Homo sapiens: one gene and its partners. The protein of the gene in region 1 interacts with the protein of each later gene in a biochemical or structural test. Each region holds a gene or a part of one and is shown in the gene's direction. Other genes may lie near its edges.

Evidence for each region.
Region 2: the proteins of NTF3 (region 1) and NTRK2 form a complex in vitro, tested with the Homo sapiens proteins (one study listed by BioGRID).
Region 3: the proteins of NTF3 (region 1) and NTRK3 form a complex in vitro, tested with the Homo sapiens proteins (one study listed by BioGRID).
Region 4: the proteins of NTF3 (region 1) and NTRK1 form a complex in vitro, tested with the Homo sapiens proteins (one study listed by BioGRID).

What each region holds. Positions count from the first base shown.
Region 1 is NC_000012.12:5,491,072-5,495,807, forward strand, and holds the end of NTF3 (neurotrophin-3 isoform 1 preproprotein), read left to right. Parts: intron 1-3,060; exon of another isoform or gene 3,061-3,122; coding exon 3,123-3,917; 3' UTR 3,918-4,228; downstream 4,229-4,736. UniProt on the Homo sapiens protein: Seems to promote the survival of visceral and proprioceptive sensory neurons.
Region 2 is NC_000009.12:85,015,686-85,022,729, forward strand, and holds part of NTRK2 (BDNF/NT-3 growth factors receptor isoform a precursor), read left to right. Parts: intron 1-4,520; coding exon 4,521-4,679; intron 4,680-5,566; coding exon 5,567-5,752; 3' UTR 5,753-7,044. UniProt on the Homo sapiens protein: Receptor tyrosine kinase involved in the development and the maturation of the central and the peripheral nervous systems through regulation of neuron survival, proliferation, migration, differentiation, and synapse formation and plasticity.
Region 3 is NC_000015.10:87,875,698-87,882,741, reverse strand, and holds part of NTRK3 (NT-3 growth factor receptor isoform a precursor), read left to right. Parts: intron 1-2,313; coding exon 2,314-2,472; intron 2,473-5,621; coding exon 5,622-5,807; 3' UTR 5,808-7,044. UniProt on the Homo sapiens protein: Receptor tyrosine kinase involved in nervous system and probably heart development.
Region 4 is NC_000001.11:156,870,865-156,877,864, forward strand, and holds part of NTRK1 (high affinity nerve growth factor receptor isoform 2 precursor), read left to right. Parts: intron 1-758; coding exon 759-891; intron 892-2,768; coding exon 2,769-3,095; intron 3,096-3,518; coding exon 3,519-3,536; intron 3,537-3,706; coding exon 3,707-3,762; intron 3,763-4,041; coding exon 4,042-4,144; intron 4,145-4,655; coding exon 4,656-4,802; intron 4,803-5,215; coding exon 5,216-5,346; intron 5,347-5,535; coding exon 5,536-5,708; intron 5,709-7,000. UniProt on the Homo sapiens protein: Receptor tyrosine kinase involved in the development and the maturation of the central and peripheral nervous systems through regulation of proliferation, differentiation and survival of sympathetic and nervous neurons.

The sequences.
Region 1 (4,736 bases):
GTGATTTTTGTTGCGCCTACGAACCAAATGCCCCCGTCACTCTCTGCCATTGTTTAGCAGTCTGACCTTAGACAGCTCACTTCACCACAACTGCAGGCCTCCGTTCCCTTATATGTATAAATGAGGAGGTTGTCTAGGGTCCTTTCCAGCTGCAAACCTCTGTGTTTTGGGGAGTTCTGTTAGCAACATTCTTGGACTTGCTCTCTACGAGAAAAGCTAGAAGTCGATTATTAAAATGGAGTCCACAGGAAGCCTGCAGGGCTTTAAGACAGCCTTCTAAAGAGTTTAGAAACACTCACCAGCCTGCAGATGACTTACTCCCACTACTTATTACAAAGTATCATGGCAAGTAAGAAAGAAATGGTCAGCCACTGGGAGAGCAGGCTGAGGTTGCAAGGAAGTGGCAGGTGCTATCGTTGGGATCTTGGGGGAGCATTGTAGAAAGGTCAGCTTTGGAACCAGGCACTGAAAAACGGGTGAAATTTCAACAGGAGAGGCAGTGCACATGGGTTGTGATTTGAGCAGCAGTGAGTAGTGAATGGGGTTGGAGCAAGAGGCCTGTGAGCCCAGTCATCACATGGAAAAGGGAGGTGAGGGCCAGAGTGCAGAGAACCCCTCTCACTTTCCTGTGGGTCTCTCCTCTTCTTTTTTTTTTTTTTTTTTTTTGAATTGGAGTCTTGCTCTGTCGCCCAGGCTGGAGTGCAGTGGCGTGATGTTGGCTCACTGTAAGCTCCGCCTCCCGGGTTCACACCATTCTCCTGCCTCAGCCTCCCGAGTAGCTGGGACTACAGGCTGCCACCGTGCCCTGCTAATTTTTGTATTTTTTTTTAGACGGGGTTTCACCTTGTTAGCCAGGATGGTCTCGATCTCCTGACCTCGTGATCCACCCACCTCGGCCTCCCAAAGTGCTGGGATTACAGGCATAAGCCACCGTACCCGGCCTTTCTCCTCTTCTTTAAACTGCATTTAGGTTGTCCTCATCTATAAGATGAAGGAATAAGATTAGATGGCCTCTTTATATGGCTTATCTACTTCTAATAAACTTTGGTTCCATATTCCAGCCACCACCCATAAAGACTCTTACTTTTTCCTCCTCAATCCATCAGCATCAGCCAGCATTCTCCCTCTCAGTTCATCCTGGTCATTACCTCACTAATCTGTACCTTGACTCTTATTCTACCTGGGACCTCCCCTCACTAACCATACTTGATTTATTTCCTTAAGAGCGGATATCCTGTGTATTCTTAGCTTACAGTGGCTGAGCTTTTGGGAGGTTTAACAAATTGTTTTTCAATAGACTCTCAGTCCTAAATGATTTTATTGCAGCTGTATTATTCTTTTTGAGGGGAGTAGAGAATGTAATCCTAGTTGTATGCCATATTTTTTGTATTGTTCAAGTTGCATTTTGTTGGGCCTGTAATATTGAAGAAAATGTCACTTGTATGCAGAATAGGAGGGAGATTCCTTATGCTGTAGAGGAACCATTTTCCTAGGATAGTACAATTCCTTAGAGTCATCTCTAAGGGTGAGCAGCAAAGCTAGAATCCCTCTCTTGGCTTTGACCTTGAAGGAGTCAGTTTTCCCAAAGACTAGTTCCCATGGAAAGAAGATGGTCTCCTTATCACAGCAGCAAGAGGAGGCAGTATGAGCAGAGTGCCTCACTGTTGTTGACCTCTAGGGACAAGTGAGCCGGCAGTATTTCAGACAAGCTGGGAAAGAGGCTGTCTGTGAGTCCTGGGAGCGAGTGAGCACTGGCAGGCTCAGACATAGGTGCTGGTTAGCAGGACTGCTTTTCTGTTTCTTGTGTCGGCTTTGTTTATTTCCTCTCTATTTTCCCCCTGGACTTAGTAAAGTCTTTCCGAAAATACCAAAGGTGAACCAGGGGAAGAGTTTTTATTTTCCATGTTTGGACAGAACTTTAAAGAGGAAATGATGTACCCCCCTGGGAGCCAGTGAGGTGGCAGCGATGGTGATTAAGGAGTGAATATCTCAAGGAGGTGGACGAATTCGGGGATCACTAGCTCAGCTGCCCCTCTCCACCTGGAGCATCTCCTTCCAGTGCTACCCTCAGAACATCTGGGCTTTGCTCTAGTGAGGGAGAGACTAGCAATGAAGGTGTCTTGAGATCAGCACTGTAATTCCACCAGGACGCCACCGGAGTCCGGTGTTAAGCTTCTACTATGGCAACAGAATGAGAGCGTGGATGGGTTGAAATGCCATTTCAACAAGGAAATAGTAGAATTAGAAGAAGCATAAGCACTAAAAGGAACATTTTGTAGCAGAAATGTTAAAAATCTAAAGGAGGCAAGTGAATCAACAATGACTCTTCTATTCTGGGCAAGTCCAGCCCATTTATGTAAGGTGGTTATTCTGCATCTCTGTCTTCTGCAAGTAGTGCTGTGGCAGAGCTGCGTTTTGTGGAGAGCGTCCCCGGGGATGGAGCAGATCAGTTGGTGATGCGTATGTATCAGAAAGCTCGGCAGAGCACCCTGGAACGTAGGCCCTCTCGCGGAGTGGGTAGTGGCCCTACATGTTCATTTCCAAGGGCAGGAGAATAGACCGTTCCAGCTGCGGCCTGGCCAGGGATGACCCCACATCTGACACTGCAATATGGGGGCAACTGAACCAGTCCTCAGCCTCAGTGTGTTCCAGGGGCTGCAGCTGGGGAGCAGTCGAACTCTTTCTTGAGACAATTACAAGGCCACCGCTGCTGCTGCTGAAGGGAAGTTACTCCATGTTTACAATTCTCAGGTTTGAAGTTTTCATGCTTTGCCAAGGTAGAGTGAACCATGCGTCTTTGCAGGCTCAAGGGATGTTTAAAGAAGCGGTAGGACATCGTCCACCCACAAGCAGAGACCGCAGGATAAAGCAGACATCCAATGTAAATACAACCCGTGCAAAAAGCAGAGTCGGCAGACCTGGAGTGCATTCGCAGTATCTCCCGGGGGTGGGGGAAAGAAATCACCTCTTCAGAATGTCCAGAGGGGAGTTGCCTTGCTTACCTGGGGGGCGGTACCCTCTCTCGTGCCCTCACAGGGCTACTCAGCCTCAGGTAGCTGGTGCCAGAATAACACAGACTCAGCTGCCAGAGCCTGCTCTTAACACCTGTGTTTCCTTTTCAGATCTTACAGGTGAACAAGGTGATGTCCATCTTGTTTTATGTGATATTTCTCGCTTATCTCCGTGGCATCCAAGGTAACAACATGGATCAAAGGAGTTTGCCAGAAGACTCGCTCAATTCCCTCATTATTAAGCTGATCCAGGCAGATATTTTGAAAAACAAGCTCTCCAAGCAGATGGTGGACGTTAAGGAAAATTACCAGAGCACCCTGCCCAAAGCTGAGGCTCCCCGAGAGCCGGAGCGGGGAGGGCCCGCCAAGTCAGCATTCCAGCCGGTGATTGCAATGGACACCGAACTGCTGCGACAACAGAGACGCTACAACTCACCGCGGGTCCTGCTGAGCGACAGCACCCCCTTGGAGCCCCCGCCCTTGTATCTCATGGAGGATTACGTGGGCAGCCCCGTGGTGGCGAACAGAACATCACGGCGGAAACGGTACGCGGAGCATAAGAGTCACCGAGGGGAGTACTCGGTATGTGACAGTGAGAGTCTGTGGGTGACCGACAAGTCATCGGCCATCGACATTCGGGGACACCAGGTCACGGTGCTGGGGGAGATCAAAACGGGCAACTCTCCCGTCAAACAATATTTTTATGAAACGCGATGTAAGGAAGCCAGGCCGGTCAAAAACGGTTGCAGGGGTATTGATGATAAACACTGGAACTCTCAGTGCAAAACATCCCAAACCTACGTCCGAGCACTGACTTCAGAGAACAATAAACTCGTGGGCTGGCGGTGGATACGGATAGACACGTCCTGTGTGTGTGCCTTGTCGAGAAAAATCGGAAGAACATGAATTGGCATCTCTCCCCATATATAAATTATTACTTTAAATTATATGATATGCATGTAGCATATAAATGTTTATATTGTTTTTATATATTATAAGTTGACCTTTATTTATTAAACTTCAGCAACCCTACAGTATATAAGCTTTTTTCTCAATAAAATCAGTGTGCTTGCCTTCCCTCAGGCCTCTCCCATCTGTTAAAACTTGTTTTGTGATCCGGCTCTCAGGAGTCACTCTGTAAAATCTGTGTACACCAGTATTTTGCATTCAGTATTGTCAAGGCCATGACTGTTGTTTTAGTAAACTTGTTAAAATCAGATGATGTCAGAGTTGTGTATAAACACAGTTATATCCCTCTTCTGGTACATTTAATGTTGGGTTAATGAATTAAAAGAACTGTTATGGCCTGCACTTACTTAAAATGATACCCTGTAGCTCTGGCCAGCAAGTTCTATATCAAATTCTCTGCTGTTAGTTTGGCAAATTAGAATTATGATTTGCTCCAGTGTTATGGTCCTGGAACAATAACAACGACCCTGGCAATTTTAGTTTTGGAAGTTTCTTTGCAGCACATTTGTTGTTTTGGGGTTTGGGGTTGTTTAAGGGTTGAATTTTTTTGTTTTGGCTTTGGTTTTTGTTTTGCTTTTTGCAAGTGGTTTCATCTTTTTAGGCACATAGGAATTTTTTAAAACTATTTGTAACAAAATAATTGCATGACTACCCAGAAGCAAACTGAAATGGATCATGAATCATCTATACATAGAGGATAAATTTATTTATGGCCGACTCTCAGCCTGTGACCACCCCTCCTCATCTGCCAGCCCC
Region 2 (7,044 bases), on another chromosome or scaffold:
TAGAACCATCCCTGAGCTGCAGCAGGAAGGGAGAGTTTTTTCTTGAAGTGGTGGGACTTGAGCTTGCCTTCATAAAGGAGACCTTTGGGAAGTAGGGAGAAAGGGAAGAAGATCAAACTTTCTAAGAGGCATGAGTAACTTGGCCCTGGGTAGGAAGCCACCTAAGCTTGCTGGCTGAACACAGAGTGTGTGTGGAGACTGGAGAAAGCAGAAAAGCAGAGTGGTCCATCCTAATGAATACAGGATGTCCAATGGGGAAAGGTTTGGTATGTGGCTTTAGGTAAACTACTTAAACTGACTGACTTTTAGGGGCATTACTTGCACTATCCAGGCAAGTCCATGTCTGCTGTAGAGCATAACTGTTGGGTTCAAGTGAGATAATTGAATAGAAATTCTTCGTAAATGTTGAAGACTGAGTGTTGATGGATGATTACGGTGGCACTGAGGTGGTGGGTGATTCCGGAACCACGGCGTTTTTGTGCTGGAAGTAACCAAGGGCTGCCCTAACTCTTCACATTTTACCAATAAAGACAGAAGCCAGACCTGAGGGTACCTGCTCAAGCTGGTTAATAGCAGCAGCACAAGAACTAGAACTCCAGTCTCTTGGGTTGAGGAAAATAAAAATTGCAAGTCCAAGTCAACTCTCCAGATAACTGGGTTTCTCATCTTGCACCAGGTCAACCTGGTGAGTTTAGTGAAGACCATGAGACCCCATTCAACTTAATTACTGGAGAGCCCCTGAGGCCCCACAGCATATCAGGCTGAGAGCAGGAATTCTGACTCTCAGTGTCATTCCTGGGATCACATTCCATCTCACAAATATTTAAGCAAGGGCATGAGGGCAAGTTGCCAAGTAGTACGATACAAAACAAATGTCTCATTGTGTTTGTTGCTGCACAGTGTGTTGTTTGTGTGGTCCAAAAACCATCAAGTGACTATAACTAGAATGTGACAGTAATTTGTAACAACAGTGACTTTTTTGGGGGGAGGGTCTACTTTTGTGACATGCTTCAAAATTCTGAGAAAGGGTTGCAAAAGAAATGTTCAGAAATGTACTAAATGGGCTTAGAAAACTTGTGAACCCTGTCTGAACTTTTATTAGATTGTCCCACCACTCACCCATTTGACATCTGAACAAGGAAAGCATTATTTATAACAGCATGCGTGAAATCCCAGAAGGGATTCTTGAAAGAATTAGAGTGAAAAATCTGCCCCAAAGAGACAGCAAGCAGAAAATAAATGATCAGATGAGAAAACATGTAAATCAAAACGTGAATCTTTTGTTCTCTCTCTCTTCTTTAAAGGAAACAGAAGCTTTTTCTTGGCTATTAGCAATTCAGGATAGAGAACCAGTATCAGGTTTTCTATCTTGCATTGCTAATGACCAAAAAAAGTGGGTGCTGCTATCAAAGGAGCCACTTGGTTAAGGCCAAATGAAGAGTTCAGGAGAGTGACATATGATGATTCTTCTTAATGTCTCCAGAATGGCTGCTTCTGGAGTAAGTAAGAGAGTGAAGGTTCCAGAGAAGAAAGCCACACCTCAAAAGCATTAATACTTTAAGACTTAGAAAACACTTTCACAAATGCCTGCTTGAGTAAATACCTCCCAACAACATTAGGAGGTATACATTATTACTTACATATAATTATTAAACCTTGGCCACAGAGAGATTTGGCAACTAGTCCAGGTTACCCCAGTAGGAAACAGGTAAGTGAGCGATTGGAAACCAGCTATTGTCATCCACTGCATTGCAGCTGTGAATATCCAGGTAGATATGGAAATCCTGAGATCTTGCTAGATTAACACACCTCAAAGTGTATTTTTAGCTGTCTTACCTGAGACATATATAAATGGTTATCTCTCCCACAAACATACATTCAAATAGTTTAATTTACCAAAGTTAAGTTTGTTCTTTCCTGCCAAACTCCTCACATACTTTAATAAGCCTCAGTCCCTGATGGATCTCCTTGAATTGAAGAGGGTTGCAATTTACAGTACATTTGACATATTTGATCTAGGAACTTCTGGGGTTGTTAAAATAACACAACTCAGACAGCATAACAAGAAGACCAGGTCCCAGTCTTTATTTTAAGATTCCTACTTCTCTAAGCCCACTTTGACCACTGGGGTTCTATTTTATCTAACGAGAAAGAACAGCAACACCAAAATGCACAGTGGAGCTGGTTGCACCATAGCACTATGCTGACATGAACAATGATGAAATGAGCTCTTCTTTATAGGGTAGGAAGAAGGTTAAAATGAGAGAGGTAAGGTTAAAAATAAGATGTATAGCAGAAGGGATTATTTTTCCCTTTGATTTCATCTTACCCATTTTTTTTTGCATGTTAGGTAAGCAAAACAATGCCATGTTTGTATCTTAAGAGGTTCCCATAAAATGCTTGCTGTGTGGATGAAAATGGTCTGTTAAAATGTGTAGACCTCTGTCCTATCTGCACCACCCAGGCAAGGTCACATAATTGCCAGGAGCAATTTCATCATCTGTAGGCTAGAGGTGCCACCAAGAGTCCTGAGTTCTTTATGGTTTGCTCACACAATTAAATGACACCAGACGTGTATAGATGTTTTCTAAACCATATGGTACATTCCAATTATGGCTTCAGAGAATGGCAAGGAGACTAGAGATGCTTTATTCTAGGGGTTAACAATCTTTGAAAATGTGTGTGCCAAAGTGCCCAGCCTTTTCTGGCACATAAACAGAAGGGTCATTTGCCCACCTCTGCAAGGTGGCAGCAGCATCCCTGCATGGCCCAAAGCAGTCCTCTCCTTGGCATTGCCATGTGGGCTGCCCAGACCTGGTGAGATCATTCTACCCTCATACCGCAAGTCCTCCAAAGCATCTGGAAACAACAGGTCCTCTGTGTATGTCAGCAGATTCCCTCTCCCAAAGTCCTGGGCACCTGGGGGTCACAGAGTTATAAACAGGGCAGATATTTGCCAAACCAGAAATGTGCTGAAATAGCTGCACCCATATTTACTACCCACATCCTTTCTGGTTGGTCAGTGTCTGTGCCACACTGATTGCAGTTTGAGTATCGACCCTGAGGGTGACTGTTGCCACCACCTTCAGACATCAAGTAAGACCATAAGAGAAGTCTCTGTCCATTGAACACTGATGACCTGTCACTGCTGAAGGAAGAGTGAGGAAATCTAAGGCCAATGGAAGCCAACTTAGCCTTTATGAGCTTTTTGTTTATTAAAAACTGAATAGTAGAGATGGGTCACCTGAGCCAGAAGTTTTTGTCCCTATTTGTCAAATTTGGATGCATCATACAGAGAAGAATGAAATAAAATATCCTCCCCCTTTTGTACTCTTGTGCTTTCTTTGGTGCTAAGAACATCACTGGGAATCACCAAGCATGTTAGACATCTCTGACATTTCAGCCTCTTGGGTTCTGGGGTAGGGGAACATTTTCCAGACACTATTAGTTTATTTTCTTCCTTTAATAAATACTAACTGGATATTGAGATTAGAATTGGGCAGAAACTCTATGCACCATTACTCTATAAACTCAGGACCCAGAGTTGTTAGAGAGGTCCAATTTTCTGCTGTAGGATAAGCCCACCTGCTCTCAGCTGTCAGGCATACTGTGTAGCATGGTGGTGCTGGGGGGTTACCAGGATGAAAAGCAGAACCTACCGCCACAGGACTACTGTGCAGAAATCTGTTCATGGGTTTGAAATCGGGCATCCCTGACAAACCTGGAAATGAGCTTCCTAACTTTCCTCCATGAAGTAGGAAGTCATATACAATTTTACTTTGTCAAAGAAAGTTTTCTTTGCCTGTACTAATGCGATTGCTATCTGATGCCCCAGTCTCAGTGTTTTCATTAAAATGGGCATTTAAAAAATGTATTTATCTATTGTGGTAAATAATCTAAGGAGCAGTGCCCTGTAATAGAGGAAAGTCCTGAGCTTAGAATCCAAAGACCTGAGTTTTGTTTCTGTAAGCAATCTGAATCTTATTGCCTTATTTGTAGAATGAGAATAATGATGCCTGACCTGCCCATCGCTGAGTGATGGTGGAGGGGTTTGAATCAGCATCATGCACACATAAGACCTGAAAGCAGAAGGAGACTCTGGCCTTGCCAAGGAAGTAGAGTCACTGGTTGGTCATTTTGGATGCAGAGTACCTCTTTGTTCTCCTGGTCAAAGTGATCTTGTTAATTAGAAGATTGAGTCATCCTCTTAGCAGAAAGTGTGTGTATGTGTGTGTAGTTTTATTTATCCAAGGTGATCATCTACCTAATCATCATCCCTGCTCCTATCTGGTTTTGAGAGAAAGAATTGCAGATAATATTTTTTTAAATGATTTTGATCACTCTTTGCCTTCTGTCTCTGTTGCTTGAGACTGTGAAGAAGTCATATATCCTTTATGTGTTTATAAACAATTAAAACTATAAAGTGCAAATAAGGAAAGCAAACAGTGTCCCCCAGCAGCTCCCTTCCACACCTGGTTTCGGGGTGACTGATGCCTCCCTGTTGATCCCTTTCTCCCCAGGTCGGTGGCCACACAATGCTGCCCATTCGCTGGATGCCTCCAGAGAGCATCATGTACAGGAAATTCACGACGGAAAGCGACGTCTGGAGCCTGGGGGTCGTGTTGTGGGAGATTTTCACCTATGGCAAACAGCCCTGGTACCAGCTGTCAAACAATGAGGTGTGCAATGGGTCTGGCCAAGACCCTCCAGAGGGCTGAGATCCCAGAGGCATCCATTGGCTGGGGCCTTGTTTTGGGTTGGAAGACCATGTCAGGACACGATCTTATGGGCTTTGTTGGTGGCAGCACTTCCCAAGTAGCCTGCTATGTTTCTAAATTTCATGGTCAAAGTATAATCACTCTGAGAAAGCAAAGCACAGTGCTCGCTGCTATGTCCTTGCTCCTCTGGTGATGGGACTGAGGAGTCACTTTATGCAGCTCATCTGATAAATTAATAGCAGACGTAGCATTCCAGAATCCATACAGTCCAGCAAGTTCTTTAGTATTGTTCCAATGAAGTTTCAAGATTCTTTCCTTTTTGAATATTTCACCAGAACATTAACTTCTAGTGAAAAACTCAAGCATTTTGTTTTTTCTATTCTTACGCTTGCAAATATTGTTTATATTTGAGGCACAGCATCTTGATCAGGCACCGTACATCTTTTTCAGATCCATTTCTATCTTTTTAATCCAGTTCCTTTATCCAATAGCCTGAGAGGTTTCCTGTCAGTCAGTGCCTTAACACCCAGGTGACTCAGGTTCCATCTCAGACCAATAAAAACCACAACATGTGGGAGCTCCAGTGTGAGGTTTGGGACCATTCCATATAAATTATTTTTCCACCAGTTTTGTGAAATCAGAGTGGCTTGGACAAATGGATATAAGCCAATCAAAATAAACACGATATAAACTAACCTATAATAATTGCTCTCTTCCTTCTGAGAAAACAAAACCAAGAGTGGGCTTCTTTTGTAAAAGCCCTCTCTTCTGCTGTTTTTTTGCACTGACATTTCTTCGATGTGCATTGCTTTTCCTCCTGTCTCATCCTATCTTTGATCTCCATCCAGGTGATAGAGTGTATCACTCAGGGCCGAGTCCTGCAGCGACCCCGCACGTGCCCCCAGGAGGTGTATGAGCTGATGCTGGGGTGCTGGCAGCGAGAGCCCCACATGAGGAAGAACATCAAGGGCATCCATACCCTCCTTCAGAACTTGGCCAAGGCATCTCCGGTCTACCTGGACATTCTAGGCTAGGGCCCTTTTCCCCAGACCGATCCTTCCCAACGTACTCCTCAGACGGGCTGAGAGGATGAACATCTTTTAACTGCCGCTGGAGGCCACCAAGCTGCTCTCCTTCACTCTGACAGTATTAACATCAAAGACTCCGAGAAGCTCTCGAGGGAAGCAGTGTGTACTTCTTCATCCATAGACACAGTATTGACTTCTTTTTGGCATTATCTCTTTCTCTCTTTCCATCTCCCTTGGTTGTTCCTTTTTCTTTTTTTAAATTTTCTTTTTCTTTTTTTTTTCGTCTTCCCTGCTTCACGATTCTTACCCTTTCTTTTGAATCAATCTGGCTTCTGCATTACTATTAACTCTGCATAGACAAAGGCCTTAACAAACGTAATTTGTTATATCAGCAGACACTCCAGTTTGCCCACCACAACTAACAATGCCTTGTTGTATTCCTGCCTTTGATGTGGATGAAAAAAAGGGAAAACAAATATTTCACTTAAACTTTGTCACTTCTGCTGTACAGATATCGAGAGTTTCTATGGATTCACTTCTATTTATTTATTATTATTACTGTTCTTATTGTTTTTGGATGGCTTAAGCCTGTGTATAAAAAAGAAAACTTGTGTTCAATCTGTGAAGCCTTTATCTATGGGAGATTAAAACCAGAGAGAAAGAAGATTTATTATGAACCGCAATATGGGAGGAACAAAGACAACCACTGGGATCAGCTGGTGTCAGTCCCTACTTAGGAAATACTCAGCAACTGTTAGCTGGGAAGAATGTATTCGGCACCTTCCCCTGAGGACCTTTCTGAGGAGTAAAAAGACTACTGGCCTCTGTGCCATGGATGATTCTTTTCCCATCACCAGAAATGATAGCGTGCAGTAGAGAGCAAAGATGGCTTCCGTGAGACACAAGATGGCGCATAGTGTGCTCGGACACAGTTTTGTCTTCGTAGGTTGTGATGATAGCACTGGTTTGTTTCTCAAGCGCTATCCACAGAACCTTTGTCAACTTCAGTTGAAAAGAGGTGGATTCATGTCCAGAGCTCATTTCGGGGTCAGGTGGGAAAGCCAAGAACTTGGAAAAGATAAGACAAGCTATAAATTCGGAGGCAAGTTTCTTTTACAATGAACTTTTCAGATCTCACTTCCCTCCGACCCCTAACTTCCATGCCCACCCGTCCTTTTAACTGTGCAAGCAAAATTGTGCATGGTCTTCGTCGATTAATACCTTGTGTGCAGACACTACTGCTCCAGACGTCGTTTCCCTGATAGGTAGAGCAGATCCATAAAAAGGTATGACTTATA
Region 3 (7,044 bases), on another chromosome or scaffold:
GTAAGCATATTTAAATTTAAAGTGTTAATCTCAACAATTAATCACTGTAAGCTTCTTTTTTCCTTTCTATAACATACAGCCTTTATCAGGCTTTTAATTATTTCTATATCTACTCTTCTATGCATTTATGGTTGAAATTATTGGAAAGTTTCATTCCAGATAAGTATGTTAGTTGTATCAGTGGTAGTACTAATAGCATTATTAGTATTATTATTTACTTTATGTCTCTATTTTACAGGAAGCCTTTATTAGTAATTGTATTACTTTTACTACCAAATTAACAACCATTATTCAAATTTAAATTGCATTTTTGTGGCTTATTTGCTCTGCATTTTTTGTTATGTTCCAATAATTGCATAGCTTGGGTTATTTTTACTGTTTTTCTAGAATATGTATTCAATTAGCTTGGCTCCTATATTTTCTGAAAGGATGTGAGTGGTAAGCTTTCTGAGTCTTTGCTTGTCTGAAAGAAGTATCTTCAGTTTTCTTTACACTGGATACAAAACTATCCTGATTAGAAAGTCCCAGGTTGAAAATAACTTTTCTGGCTAGGCAAAGTGGCTCACGCCTGTAATCCCAGCACTTTGGGAGGCCAAGGTGGGTGTATAACTTGTGGTCAGGAGTTTGAGACCAGCCTGACCAATGCGGTGAAACCCCGTCTCTACTGAAAATACAAAAATTAGCCAGGCATGGTGTTTCATGCCTATAATCCCAGCTACTCAGGAGGCTAAGGCAGGGGAATCGCTTGAACCCAGGAAGCGGAGGTTGCAGTGAGCGGAGATCGCGCCACTGCACTCCAGCCTGGGCAGCAGGAGTGAAACTCTGTCTCAGAAAAAAGAAAGAAAAGAAAAGAACTGCTCTGCAAACTTGTATTATAATTTACCTCCTAAAATTCTTCAAGTGGTTAAGGCAAACATGATTTCCCTTTTTGGAAACAAGATTGCCCATCTCCCAACTTATTCGTTCTTAATTATTCATTGTTATTATTTCTCTAACTGACCCCCCATAGAAATAAGAACTTTAGGCCGGGCGCGGTGGCTCAAGCCTGTAATCCCAGCACTTTGGGAGGCCGAGGCAGGCGGATCACGAGGTCAGAAGATCGAGACCATCCTGACTAACACAGTGAAACCCCGTCTCTACTAAAAATACAAAAAATTAGCCGGGTGTGGCAGCGGGCACCTGTAGTCCCAGCTACTCGGGAGGCTGAGGCAGGAGAATGGCGTGAACCCGGGAGGTGGAGCTGGCAGTAAGCCGAGATCGCGCCACTGCACTCCAGCTTGGGTGACAAAGCGAGACTCCGTCTCAAAATAAATAAATAAATAAATAAATAAATAAGAAAGAAGGAAATGAGAACTTTAAGTAATACCTCATCCGGACATAAATAGACAACTCTTTTTTCAATATTAAGTAGTTTTTTTAACAATGAGTTCCATGTATTAGGCAAAAGTTTCAGTTCCTGAAAATCTATTTACTAATGATGCAGTTAGTTCCTGAGTTTTCACACATGCTGTGAATTTTCTCCCACTTATGCTAACATCTCTAGCCTGCTGGGCAAAGAGGAGTTCCCTAATGTTTTTCTCAGTAAAGGGTACCCTGGGTGTTTATCCTTGTCAGTCACTTCCTTTTCCCCTTGGCTTTCAGTTTGGCAGATTCACAGGTGGTTGATATCCTCCTTAGGCTATTTTTAAAGACTCTCCCTACTGTCCTTTGAGATCTTACTAAGAACTGTGGTGAATTCTCTTTCTGTCCATCTCCTACCTTATTAGCACGTGGTCTTCCACGCTTTTGGAATGTCTCTGTCTCCTTCACTTGAAACACTGAGTCCTAAATTGTGGTGAGAGATTCGAGATTGTCAGTTAGAAGCTAAAGTTCTGCAGATCAGATGCACATGGAATATACTGTGCCACTGCAGCCAAGAATCTAACCTGATGTTTGCAGATACTGATCCTTGGTGACTGGCTTAGTCATTCTGCTGACTTCTTGCTGGACTTGCTCTTAAGGTTAGATTTTTCTGTAGTGCTAGATTCTGAAACCTTCTCTCTCACTTCAGATTACCTTGATCTTTCTACACACTGAGTGCCAAGGAACCTACCTTCCCTCAGGTGTTACCTCTAGTTGCTAGTCTAGCTGTCTCCTTTATCGTAGGTCTCCAAAGTCAGCATCTTCACACACCTCTGATAGAAGTTGCATAAAGCTGTGACTATCTTAGAATAGGATGCATCAAGAGTGCATCTATGTGTGAAGAGTGCAGACAGATAACACTCATTCTGGCCATCTGGTCACTCTGTGTGCCTCTATCTCAACCCCTTTTAGGTGGGAGGACACACCATGCTCCCCATTCGCTGGATGCCTCCTGAAAGCATCATGTACCGGAAGTTCACTACAGAGAGTGATGTATGGAGCTTCGGGGTGATCCTCTGGGAGATCTTCACCTATGGAAAGCAGCCATGGTTCCAACTCTCAAACACGGAGGTAAAAAGGGGGTGCGTAGGAATCTTGATTGGGGGAGGGCTCATAAGAGCTATCTCAGCCCAGAACTTGGACCTACTGAACAAGACATTAGGTGGGATTTAGAGCCAGCAGAGTGAATGCAGGCATTAGTGGGAGCAGAGAGCTTCTTAGTAGGAAAAAAAAAATGGAACTGTAGGAAATGTGGTGTAATTGTCAAAAGAGCATGAAATCAGAGGTCTAAATTGAGACTCAAGTCATGCCTCTGTTAAATCTGCTACCCTTAAAAATCACAAATGTTTCACTATGACAAAAAAGGAAAACAGAACAGCTATGAGTTTTTCAATTGTGCCATCTTGTGGAAACACCCACTACTTAGTATGCCCACATAATCTGGGTGCACAAAGGTTTTAGGTATGCCAAGCCCAGGGATGTACCAGATGGTCAATTTGGGAAGACCAGTTTTATAACTGGTAGAGTCATGTGTGAACGTCTAGGAATAAAATAAACCGTGTTTATTTTATTACTATGTTTTTACTATGTTTATTAGTATGTTTACTGTTAAACTTAGTAATAAATAGCCATTATATTTTTTATAATTGTAATTTGCAATAATAAAAAATGCTAGTAAACATAAATTAATAGTAGCTGACATTTAGTGGTAGGCACTTTTCTAAGCATGTTAGCTCTATTAATTCAGTAATTTTTGCAAAAACACCTGTTGAGATTCAGGTTAAAGGAAGGGGGTCTGCTTGAGGTACTGAAATGGGCTGGCCAGGGTCTCACAGGTAAGAGCCTCCAAAGCAGGGACAAAGCCTGGGCTGTAATCCTAGGACTCCTCTGCCTCCAAAGCCCATCAAGATGCTTCTCAGTGATGCATGGACCATGCCATGTTGCCCCAGGGAATTCAGTGCAGTTTGTAGGCAGTAAGGAGCTCAGTCTTTCAACCCAGTCGACCTATGAAACATCCCTATGAAACATCGCAATTCTTTTTATGGTCTTCTGTTTGCTGGGAAAATGTAAACACAAGACCCTTTTGGTATTGAAATCTTATTTGAATATTCAACAGAGTGTCTTTCTTCTTGGAAGCTATGTTTGTCTCTGCTCTCCTATGTCTTGACCACTTGATTAAGTGAATTACAAAGACTGAAAAGAAATTATTTTTTAAAACGTGTACTATCTCATGATTCACAAGCTCAGTGGGGCCTGACCACATTTCCCAAAGTAGAACAAAATATTTTAACAATCTTTTAAAATAATGAAAGTATATATACTAGAACCCATTTGTTATGGTGTTTAAGAAATTGTTACTGTTTTCGCAGGGGAGGAAGGGTTAGGAACACACACACACACACACACACACACACACACACACACACACACACACCATGCATGCACCTGAACACTGCCTCCTTGTAGTTTGGTGGCCCCAGTAAACAGAGGTTCTGGGCTGAGGTTGCTATTGGTCTTAACAGAAGACTCAGCATCTGTTCTTGAGCTGGCTCATAGCAGCTAACAGGGTGTTTGCAGTTTCTTCTAAGACTCACAGAGGCATTGGCCTTAAAGGCAGGCTTTCTGCCCTCAGCCACTTCCCCCACTCCACCCACCATAGCAGCCACATACTGACAGTCTCTGATCATCGGTTTCTCCATGGAAATCAACAAACCTGGATAGTCCAACATTAGAAGAGACACTCCCAGGTGCCTTTGATCTTGGCATTAGCAGCTGCTACTGTAGTTCGAACTGAATCCCTTTTCCTGGAGGTGAAGGTAATGGAGGGTGGAAATGGGTCTCTAATATGAATGGGGAATATAAGCAGCTGGAGACTTATCAGGCTGGTAAAGAAATGAGCCAAGGGGCCATCGTAAACTCCAGGGTGAATATAACCAGGCGGATGCTGACACAGTGATGGTTTGACCAGCCCTCCCAAAGTCAGCGTGACATGAGACAATACTGGAAACAAGGCACTGTTGAGCAGTGTAGGGACATGCAAAGGAGAAAAAAGACAGTGCTTTTACCTAATTAGATACAGACTAATGGTGGCAGAGAAGGGAAATAATATTTGTTCAGCTGCTGAGCTAGAGATTATTCTTTGTATTTTTATCATTATGACCAATCTTTAAATGCAGAAACTGAAGTTCGGGGTCAGTGACTTGACCAAAGTTATGCAGTGGTAGAGTTAGGGAGAAGTGAAAACCAACCTAAAAACTAGACAATGAAGCCTTGAAAATGCATATATTCAGTGTCAGTAAAGAATTATCTTTGAGGAATTGGAAATGCATTGCAAATTATACACTTGGGTCTCAAGTGGCCTGCTGGGGTTGGCCAGGCATGCATTACTTGTTTTCTTCCTACTCCTCCTTATGGCTTCTCCTTCAGTATGTTGGGCCATACAGTCCCTTTTCGTGGTCTCATTTCATCCTTACAACACTCCTGGGGGTGGTTAAGGCAGACATTTGATTCCATCTTACAGATGGACATGCTGAGATCCTGAGGTTAACAGACTTGAACTGGCCACCCAGAAGGCAGTGGTGAATCAAGCAGTTAGTCCTATTGTTAAGGACTTTAAGAGAAACTGGAAGCATGGTTTAGTGCAAGCAGCAGGGAAGGATGGGTCTTGCTGCAAAAGGGTCCTATGTAATGACTCAGAGGCAAGTGTGGTGACGTGCACAGAGTCTGCAACTGGGAGCCTGCCAGGAATGAGAGATAAGAGGAGATAGGCATGCAGGGGCCAGAGGGTGCAGAGCTCCTTCATGGCAGTTTCAAAGTGAGGCAGGCTCATGAAAGGGGGAGGGACAGGTCAGAAGCCCATGTCCACTATCAAGTGAAAAATGAATGCAGCTCAGTCATCCTGATGAGATTCAGGACTAGAGAAGAAAAGTGAGGTAAAAGAGAAGAGAGTATGGGGAGTCAATGGTCAATGTGGGCCTGGCCCAAGAAGTGGAGTATGAAGGGCAGCAGAGGACTCCACCAGCCACTGCTGCTCACTGCACTGTGCACCAGACAGACAAATATACCAGTGCTGTATACAGCCTAGCCTTTAGCTTGTGCTTGTGAGAGCCTCGGCTCTGCATAGAAACTAATCCGGGAAGTTGTTGCTTTTTGCCGAGTCTGAGCCACAGGACCAAGGCTGAGCTTTGGGTGTAACTTCCTTGTTCTTCTCACTCTTTCAGGTCATTGAGTGCATTACCCAAGGTCGTGTTTTGGAGCGGCCCCGAGTCTGCCCCAAAGAGGTGTACGATGTCATGCTGGGGTGCTGGCAGAGGGAACCACAGCAGCGGTTGAACATCAAGGAGATCTACAAAATCCTCCATGCTTTGGGGAAGGCCACCCCAATCTACCTGGACATTCTTGGCTAGTGGTGGCTGGTGGTCATGAATTCATACTCTGTTGCCTCCTCTCTCCCTGCCTCACATCTCCCTTCCACCTCACAACTCCTTCCATCCTTGACTGAAGCGAACATCTTCATATAAACTCAAGTGCCTGCTACACATACAACACTGAAAAAAGGAAAAAAAAAGAAAGAAAAAAAAACCCTGTAAGGCAGTTTGGCAAATATATATATATATATATATATTTATATATCTAACTATCTATCAATCTATATCTACAGAGAGTTACCTTCTCTAGTACACAGAGAAGCTGCTGATACAGAAAACCACAAGACTTTAACAACTCAGAAACTCTAAAATATTAATAATACAAAGGAAAATTCCCTTTGACTTAAGCTGTGGCCCATGCTTCTAATGCTACGGCTCTTTGGAGCAGAAGACCTGGACCATGCAGAGAGACAATCTTTGGGATGAGAGCTCTGGGACGGGAGGAGTTAAGGTGGTGCTCAGTCGCTGCTGTGTGTGTCTGTTACCCCGGAAGCTCACCACAGGCACATGTGGGGACTGCATGGCTGTGCTCAGCAAAGAAATGATGCCTGAGCAGGGTCCTTGCCTCCACTTCTTCCCCATTTCCTCCACTTCAGGACAATGTTCTAATTTGTCCATTCTAAAAAGTGTAATCTTGATGCTTTTGGGAATCAATGATGGCACCTACGGGTAAACACAGAACAGACAACCCCACAACACAAAACCATGACAAGAGCTGACAGCATCCATCCTGGGTGTAAGCTTCTTGCTGGAGTTGCAAAGGATGTGTCTTTCTATTCTCAGAACTTAAAGAACTGGACTTTCTGGAGTAAAAGAACCACAGAAGAAAAAATAGCTGAAACCTGAACCCTGCCAAGACACTGCCACCTGTCTTTTCCATCATTGCAAAGATTCCTTGGCCTCACCTCCCACTTTCAGGCCCCTGGGAAGCTTAGGGGGTTAGGAAACAGGTCCCCATGTTATCTTTGAATGTAGACACAGCACGCTTTAGGGTTGCAATAGCAAGAGACTTGGTTGCTTGTAGGTCATTATAACGAATGCCCCCTGGTCCTCTCAGTTTCTCATCCTGCTTCCCTAGATCCTAGACCCCACTTCCTGGGTCTCTACTGAGTCCCAGGTAAACCCCACTGCCAAGGAAGGGAGCCAGGTCTAGTGAGAGGCTGCAGCAGTGAGTGTTTCAGGAAAGCAAGCAGTGGAGTGGGTGAGAGCCAGCAGG
Region 4 (7,000 bases), on another chromosome or scaffold:
TCCACGGTTTCCTAGGAAGAGAAACTTGATCTGATTCAATCCTGACGATGATTCAGAATCAAGTCACTTTGCCTGTCTAACCTCACCCATGGTCCTCATCTGCTGCAGGAGGCGATGCCGCTGCTGTTGTTTCTAACTGCTGCTGTGCTATTTGCACCATCTCTTTGTTTCTGATCTTCCTTGGGCTGAGACTCAGTTTGTTAGAACTGTGTGTAAAACAGGAATGAATAGGCAGTGAGGTCCTAGTGGGGTCTCCAACGAGCTGTGTACAAATTTGGTACTTGGGATGCGTGACATCTGTTTAGCTGCTCAGATGGCTGGTTTTAGTTTCAGTTTGGGATATTTTGTGCCTATTTTGAGGCTACTGGTTAGATTTTAGATTTTTCAGATAATTAAATACGTGATCCAGGCTGGGCGCAGTGGCTCACGCCTGTAATCCCAATACTTTGGGAGGCCGAGGTGAGAGGATTGCTTGAGGCCCTGTTCAAGACCAGCCTGGGCAGGACAGTAAGACCCCGTCGCTACAAAAATAAAACATAAAATAAAAAAAAAATGTGATCCAGGAGATAGTCAACGAACAAACCTAAAGGAGGAAGGCCATTATCTGCTACATTCTCTCCCACCCCTCTCTCCCTTCTCTTCCCTCCCAGCCCTCCTCTCCTTTCCATCTGGAGCCAGAGGGGCTCTCCAAAGACTTCAGCCCCAGCCCCAAGCTGGCTAAAGCTCCTTCTTATTCCCCCCTCTCTTTCCTGATCTAGAAATCTGGGGGTCTGCCATCCCTGGGGCTGACCCTGGCCAATGTCACCAGTGACCTCAACAGGAAGAACGTGACGTGCTGGGCAGAGAACGATGTGGGCCGGGCAGAGGTCTCTGTTCAGGTCAACGTCTCCTGTGAGTCTCAGTGGCAGCTCCGGCACCCACCCCCTACTCATCTCTTCTTCCCTCAAAAGAGGATGTAGGGTGGGGGGCTGGAAGAAAGGGTGGGATGTGTGTCTCCACAGCTGCTCCCTCCCAGCTGTTTCCAGATTCCCATGAAAACCTGATCCTTTGGGGGAAGTCCTGGGGTCTTGTCAAGGCCAGAGGGATGGAGATGGATTTCTTTCTGGCCCCCTGCCCGAGCCTTGCTACCTGAGGCCCTCAACGCCAGATGCCCGGCTGTTCCCACTGCTCCGAAGTATTTTTTCATGCCCGTCCCTCATCGGGTCCTTCTCCCCGCATCCTAGTTTCAAAAGAGGAAATTCTCCTCCTGAGTTCCTCTTTACGCTCGCTGCCTAATTTCTCTAGATCAGCCAACAAATTATCTTAAATATTCTACTTTACATCAGTTTTCTTCTTTTATTGTGAAATATACATAGAAATGTGCAAAAAATATATATATTTTAAACAATAATTACTCTTACCAGCATCACGGAAGATCCCCCACCACCCAACACCTCTCCCTGTTCGCAATCCCATCCCACTCTCCCATCTCATGTTGACTTTTGTCAGGATAACCATTTCCTTGCTTTTAAAAATAATTTTTCTCAAATATGCTTTCCTATCGGTATCATTTAGTTTTGCCTGTTCTTGTACATTATATAAATGGAATCATACTGCGTGTATTATTTTGTATCTGGTTTCTTTCATTCAACATTATATTTATAAGATTCATTCATGTTAATGGGAGTTGCTATATGTAGCTCATGCAATTCATTGCTAAATAGTATTCCTATGTATGAATGCTATATTATATATATATATACATATATTTATGCATACATACACTTTTTTTCTATCATTGAGGGGCTTTTACTTTTACCAGATTGGGTCTATTTCTTTTTTTTTTTTTTGAGATGGAGTCTCGCTCTGTCACCCAGGCTGGAGTGCAGTGGCGCGCTCTCGGCTCACTTCAAGCTCCGCCTCCCAGGTTCACGTCATTCTCCTGCTTCAGCCTCCTGAGTATCTGGGACTACAGGCGCCCTCCACCACGCCCAGCTAATTTTTTGTATTTTTTTAGTGGAGACGGGGTTTCACCGTGTTAGCCAGGATGGTCTCGATCTCCTGACCTCGTGATCCGCCCGCCTCGGCCTCCCAAAGTATTGGAATTACAGGCGTGAGCCACCGCGCCTGGCCCAGATTGGGTCTATTTCAAACGCATATCTTTTTTCAAAAAGAGTGTGTGTGTGTGTGTGTGTGTGTGTGTGTGTGTGTGTGTGTGTTTGAAGAGATGGGGTCTCAGCCTGTTGCCCAGGCTGGAATGCTTTGGGATCATAACTCACTGCAGCCTTGAACTCCTGGCCTCAAGCGATCCTCCCACCTCAGCCCCCTGAGTAGCTGGGATTACAGGAGCAAGTCACTGTGCCTGGCTTTTCCCCAAAAATTTAACTGTATATATTTTTGGCTGGTTTGATTGTTAGGGCCCCTGACCCATCTTCTTCAGCTTGGTTACACTGACTTCTTCTAGATTCCTTATCCCAAAGACTCCATGTTTAATTGTCATAAGCTGATACCCCACTCCTGTGGGGCTGTGACTTATTTATGGCCCACCACTTATGTTCTTTAAGCCTCTAAATTTTATATGCCTGCTGCCTGATTTATTTAAAATGTATTGTCAACTTTCTTCAAAACATCTCTCCTTGGTGAATTTCCCAGGGCCTGCTGACCTGTTTCTCCCAGGCCTGCCCTTTGATTTCGGGTTCTACTCGCTTTGCCCGTGGACTTGTCGGGTGTGTGCCAGGCTCCCTCCAGCTGCGCCCTGACCTCCTGCTGTTGCTCTTTCTGGCCCACAGTCCCGGCCAGTGTGCAGCTGCACACGGCGGTGGAGATGCACCACTGGTGCATCCCCTTCTCTGTGGATGGGCAGCCGGCACCGTCTCTGCGCTGGCTCTTCAATGGCTCCGTGCTCAATGAGACCAGCTTCATCTTCACTGAGTTCCTGGAGCCGGCAGCCAATGAGACCGTGCGGCACGGGTGTCTGCGCCTCAACCAGCCCACCCACGTCAACAACGGCAACTACACGCTGCTGGCTGCCAACCCCTTCGGCCAGGCCTCCGCCTCCATCATGGCTGCCTTCATGGACAACCCTTTCGAGTTCAACCCCGAGGACCCCATCCCTGGTGCGAGGGCCATCCTGAACCCTGCCCCCACTCCTGGGCTCCTCCTGGGTTACAGCCAACTTCCTGCTATAGCCCTGACCCCAGAAATTGGAGTGCCTGGTTCGGGACAGAAAGGAGTCTGGAGTCCTGGTGTCCCGCTGTTCTGGCCTCCTTACCCTCTCCCCAAGCCAGGACTCCTGAACTCCTGAGCTATTCCGTCCTTGTCGGCTGGCTGAGGAGACAGCCATGCAGCAGGGCATCCTGGCCCAGCTGGAAAAGGGTCACATGCATCTTCTTCCTTGAGGCCCAGCAGCCCACCTCCATCCCCCCTCGTCCCATGAAGGAATGAGTCCCAGAGTAGGCAGGGGACTCACTGCTTTCCTCCTCCCTCTGACTGCTTTCTCTCCTCCCTCTGACTGCTTTCTCTCCTCCCTCCTGCTGCAGTCTCCTTCTCGCCGGTGGGTGAGTAGCCCAAGGTGGAGGGCAGGTTCTGCCTGGTCTCTGGAGCTGAGGCTGGGGCAGAGGGTACAGCTGAACTGATCCCTGAGAGACCAGCTGGGGCCAGGGTTGGGGGGTTACTGGAGGCTACAGTGTGTGTCAAGGCTCACCCCTCCTGCCCTGTGTCCCTACAGACACTAACAGCACATCTGGAGACCCGGTGGAGAAGAAGGACGAAACACCTTTTGGGGTGAGATAGGAAGTAGAAGCTTGTGCAGACTTTGGGACCGGGAGGCTGGGTAGAGGCTCATCTGCATGTCATTTCTGGTCAGAGCAGGGAGATCACTACCATCTGGCCTGAGCTCTGACGGCCACCCGCACAGCCACTGCAGGGGTCCCCAGGGGAGGATGAGGCAGGTCTGGAGACCTGGCTCCGGGCTCCCATGCAGGATGAAAAAATGGCTTACTACAGGAGGCTCTGAGAGTACAGGAGGAGCCCCTGGATCTAACTACCCCTGTCCCCCACCAGGTCTCGGTGGCTGTGGGCCTGGCCGTCTTTGCCTGCCTCTTCCTTTCTACGCTGCTCCTTGTGCTCAACAAATGTGGACGGAGAAACAAGTTTGGGATCAACCGTGAGTCGGGGCTGCAGAGGGCTGTCTGTCTGTCTGTTCTCCTGGCTTTGTTTCCTACTGGCTCTTCCTGACTCTGTCTCTGGGGGGCTGTGCACATGGGAGTTCCAGGGCGTGTGAGTGTGTTTGGGGTATAAATGAAGGCCTGGCTGTGAGGCTTGTGAGTGTGAGTGTGTGTGGGAGCGTGTGTCGGGCTGGTGCTGGGGTAGTTTCAGAGGCGGCAGCTGCTAATTGGTGGCTGGATTGTAGTCAAGCATTAAGTGGGTCTGGGAGGTCTGGGCTCTGTGGGGGTGGAGGGGGAGTTCTTTGGTGCCCATGGGGCCAGGGGTGGGACAGGAGCCAGCACAGGGAGAGGCGGTGGTGCCCCCTTCCCCCTGCCTGCTGTCTCGCTCCCTAGCTTCTCAGTCTCTCCCCTGCAAGTTACAAGGTGGGGGTGACCAGGCATCCTGCAGGCAAGGGTGGGCAGGGCCAAGGTGTGGGCAAACCCCTCCATGCGGCTGTGTCTCCTCTCTAGGCCCGGCTGTGCTGGCTCCAGAGGATGGGCTGGCCATGTCCCTGCATTTCATGACATTGGGTGGCAGCTCCCTGTCCCCCACCGAGGGCAAAGGCTCTGGGCTCCAAGGCCACATCATCGAGAACCCACAATACTTCAGTGATGCCTGTGAGGGGCTATGCTGGGTCAAGGGCAGGGACGAGTGTGTGTGTGTGTGTGTGTGTGTGTGTGTGTGTGTAGAAGCCCCTAGGCCTGAACGATCCCTCCCTTTCTCCCACCCCTCCCCAGCCCTATTCCAGCCATAGGCCCTGTCATATTCTTCTCAGGCTGAGTCCAGCCTGGCTCTTAGCTGCATCCCCTGCCCAGAGTCACAGCTAGCCCAAACCATGTCCTCTCGGGGCAGGTGCAGCCCCACACTATGACATGGGGCTTGCTGAAGGGGTGCAGGTTGAATTTTAGCCCCCATGCAGTCCCTCGTCTGGGCAGCCTTGTGCAGCACACAGCCCTGCCAAGACAGTCCCCGCTACAACCCCAGCCCTCCCAAGACTGGGGCTACCGTCTGACCCTGCAAGCCCCCTCAGGTGTTCACCACATCAAGCGCCGGGACATCGTGCTCAAGTGGGAGCTGGGGGAGGGCGCCTTTGGGAAGGTCTTCCTTGCTGAGTGCCACAACCTCCTGCCTGAGCAGGACAAGATGCTGGTGGCTGTCAAGGTGAGACCCTGCCCCGGGGGGTACTGCTGGCCTGGGTCCCACCCCCAGGAGCTCCATCACATCAGGACAGAGTGGGGGGAGATGCAGAGGGCTGACATGGCTGGATACCGGGGTGGGCGGGCTGCCCTGGGTGAACAGCAGTGAGGGCTCGGCCCCCAACTCAGTCCTGTCCCTGCCGCTTCCATCCAGGCACTGAAGGAGGCGTCCGAGAGTGCTCGGCAGGACTTCCAGCGTGAGGCTGAGCTGCTCACCATGCTGCAGCACCAGCACATCGTGCGCTTCTTCGGCGTCTGCACCGAGGGCCGCCCCCTGCTCATGGTCTTTGAGTATATGCGGCACGGGGACCTCAACCGCTTCCTCCGGTACCAGCACCTGGCCTCAGCGCTGGCCCCGGCCCCTGGCTCTGGGCCCCGTCTTCCCTTCCCTATAGACATCCCTGCTTGTCTTTCAAACCAAGGGGAGACACCAAGAAAGATCAGGAAGGCACATTCCCGTCCCCAGGGAGCTCTGAGATGGTAGAGGAGGCAGATGTGTGAACATAGGGGTGACTCTTGCAAAGGACAAGTGTCAGTAGTCAGGGAGGTTGCGATGGCAAAGGCCGTGAGCTAAAACTTTGGGGTGGGTGGGCTTTGCAGAGGGTGTATGTGCATTTGTGTGTGGCACACAAAGGCCAGGCCTGTAAGGGTAGCAGTTTAGATAACGACAGTAACAACGACAGTAATGAACATTTATCAGGCACCTTCTATGTTCCAGGTGCTATGTTATATACTTTATAATTTATTATTTTTTATTTTTTAACATGTATTTATTACTGTTATTGTTTTAGAGTTGGGGTCTTGCTCTGTTGCCTAGGCTGGAGTGCAACGGTGTTGCAATAATAGCTCACTGCAGCCTCAAATTCCTGGGCTCAAGCAATTCTCCCGCCTTAGCCTCCCCAGTAGCTGGGACTACAGGTGCACACCATTGCACCTGGCTCTACAATTTGTTCTTATTATGGTTCTATGTGCTGGTACATATATATCTTGTATAGTAATATAAATATGTATTTATTTTTTATGGCCTCCAAGCATATATTGCAATTTACACTTGAAGCAAGTTACAAAAAATTCATTTCTTTGGCTTCGGACAGAACAACTCTGATACATTTATCTATTTGTGCTGATAATTTTAATAACTTCGAGAAATGTGCCTGTTTCACAGATAAGGCTTAGAGAGGTTCAGTGACTTGCCCAAGGGCACACAGGTAGTGAATGGCCCAGGGGTGATGTGGCCCCAGGCAGAGCCCCTACTCTCAGCCCCTGATGTGATGGTCACATGTTCCCTCGGTCTAGTCCTTCTCTGATGAGATCACCCCCGGGAGGATGGGGCAGTGTTTGCAAGGCAGGGAGAAGAGCAGGGTTTGGAATCAGCTGCCACTTATGAGCTGAGCCTTCTTTGCCAAGTAGCTTTCCTCTCTGACCTCACTTTCCTCACCAGTAAGAGGGACAGTGTGGGGGCTGTGGTTCTGGATGAGCAAGCGCTGTATGGTTGTCCAGTTGATGGTCATGATCTGGTCCCCAAACATCCCTTTGGGAGTGATGGGTCATTCATGCAGTCAGGCTGCAGGACTCAGCTAGGAGAGACCCCTGAGTCTTGGGCTTATCCTGTGGACCAG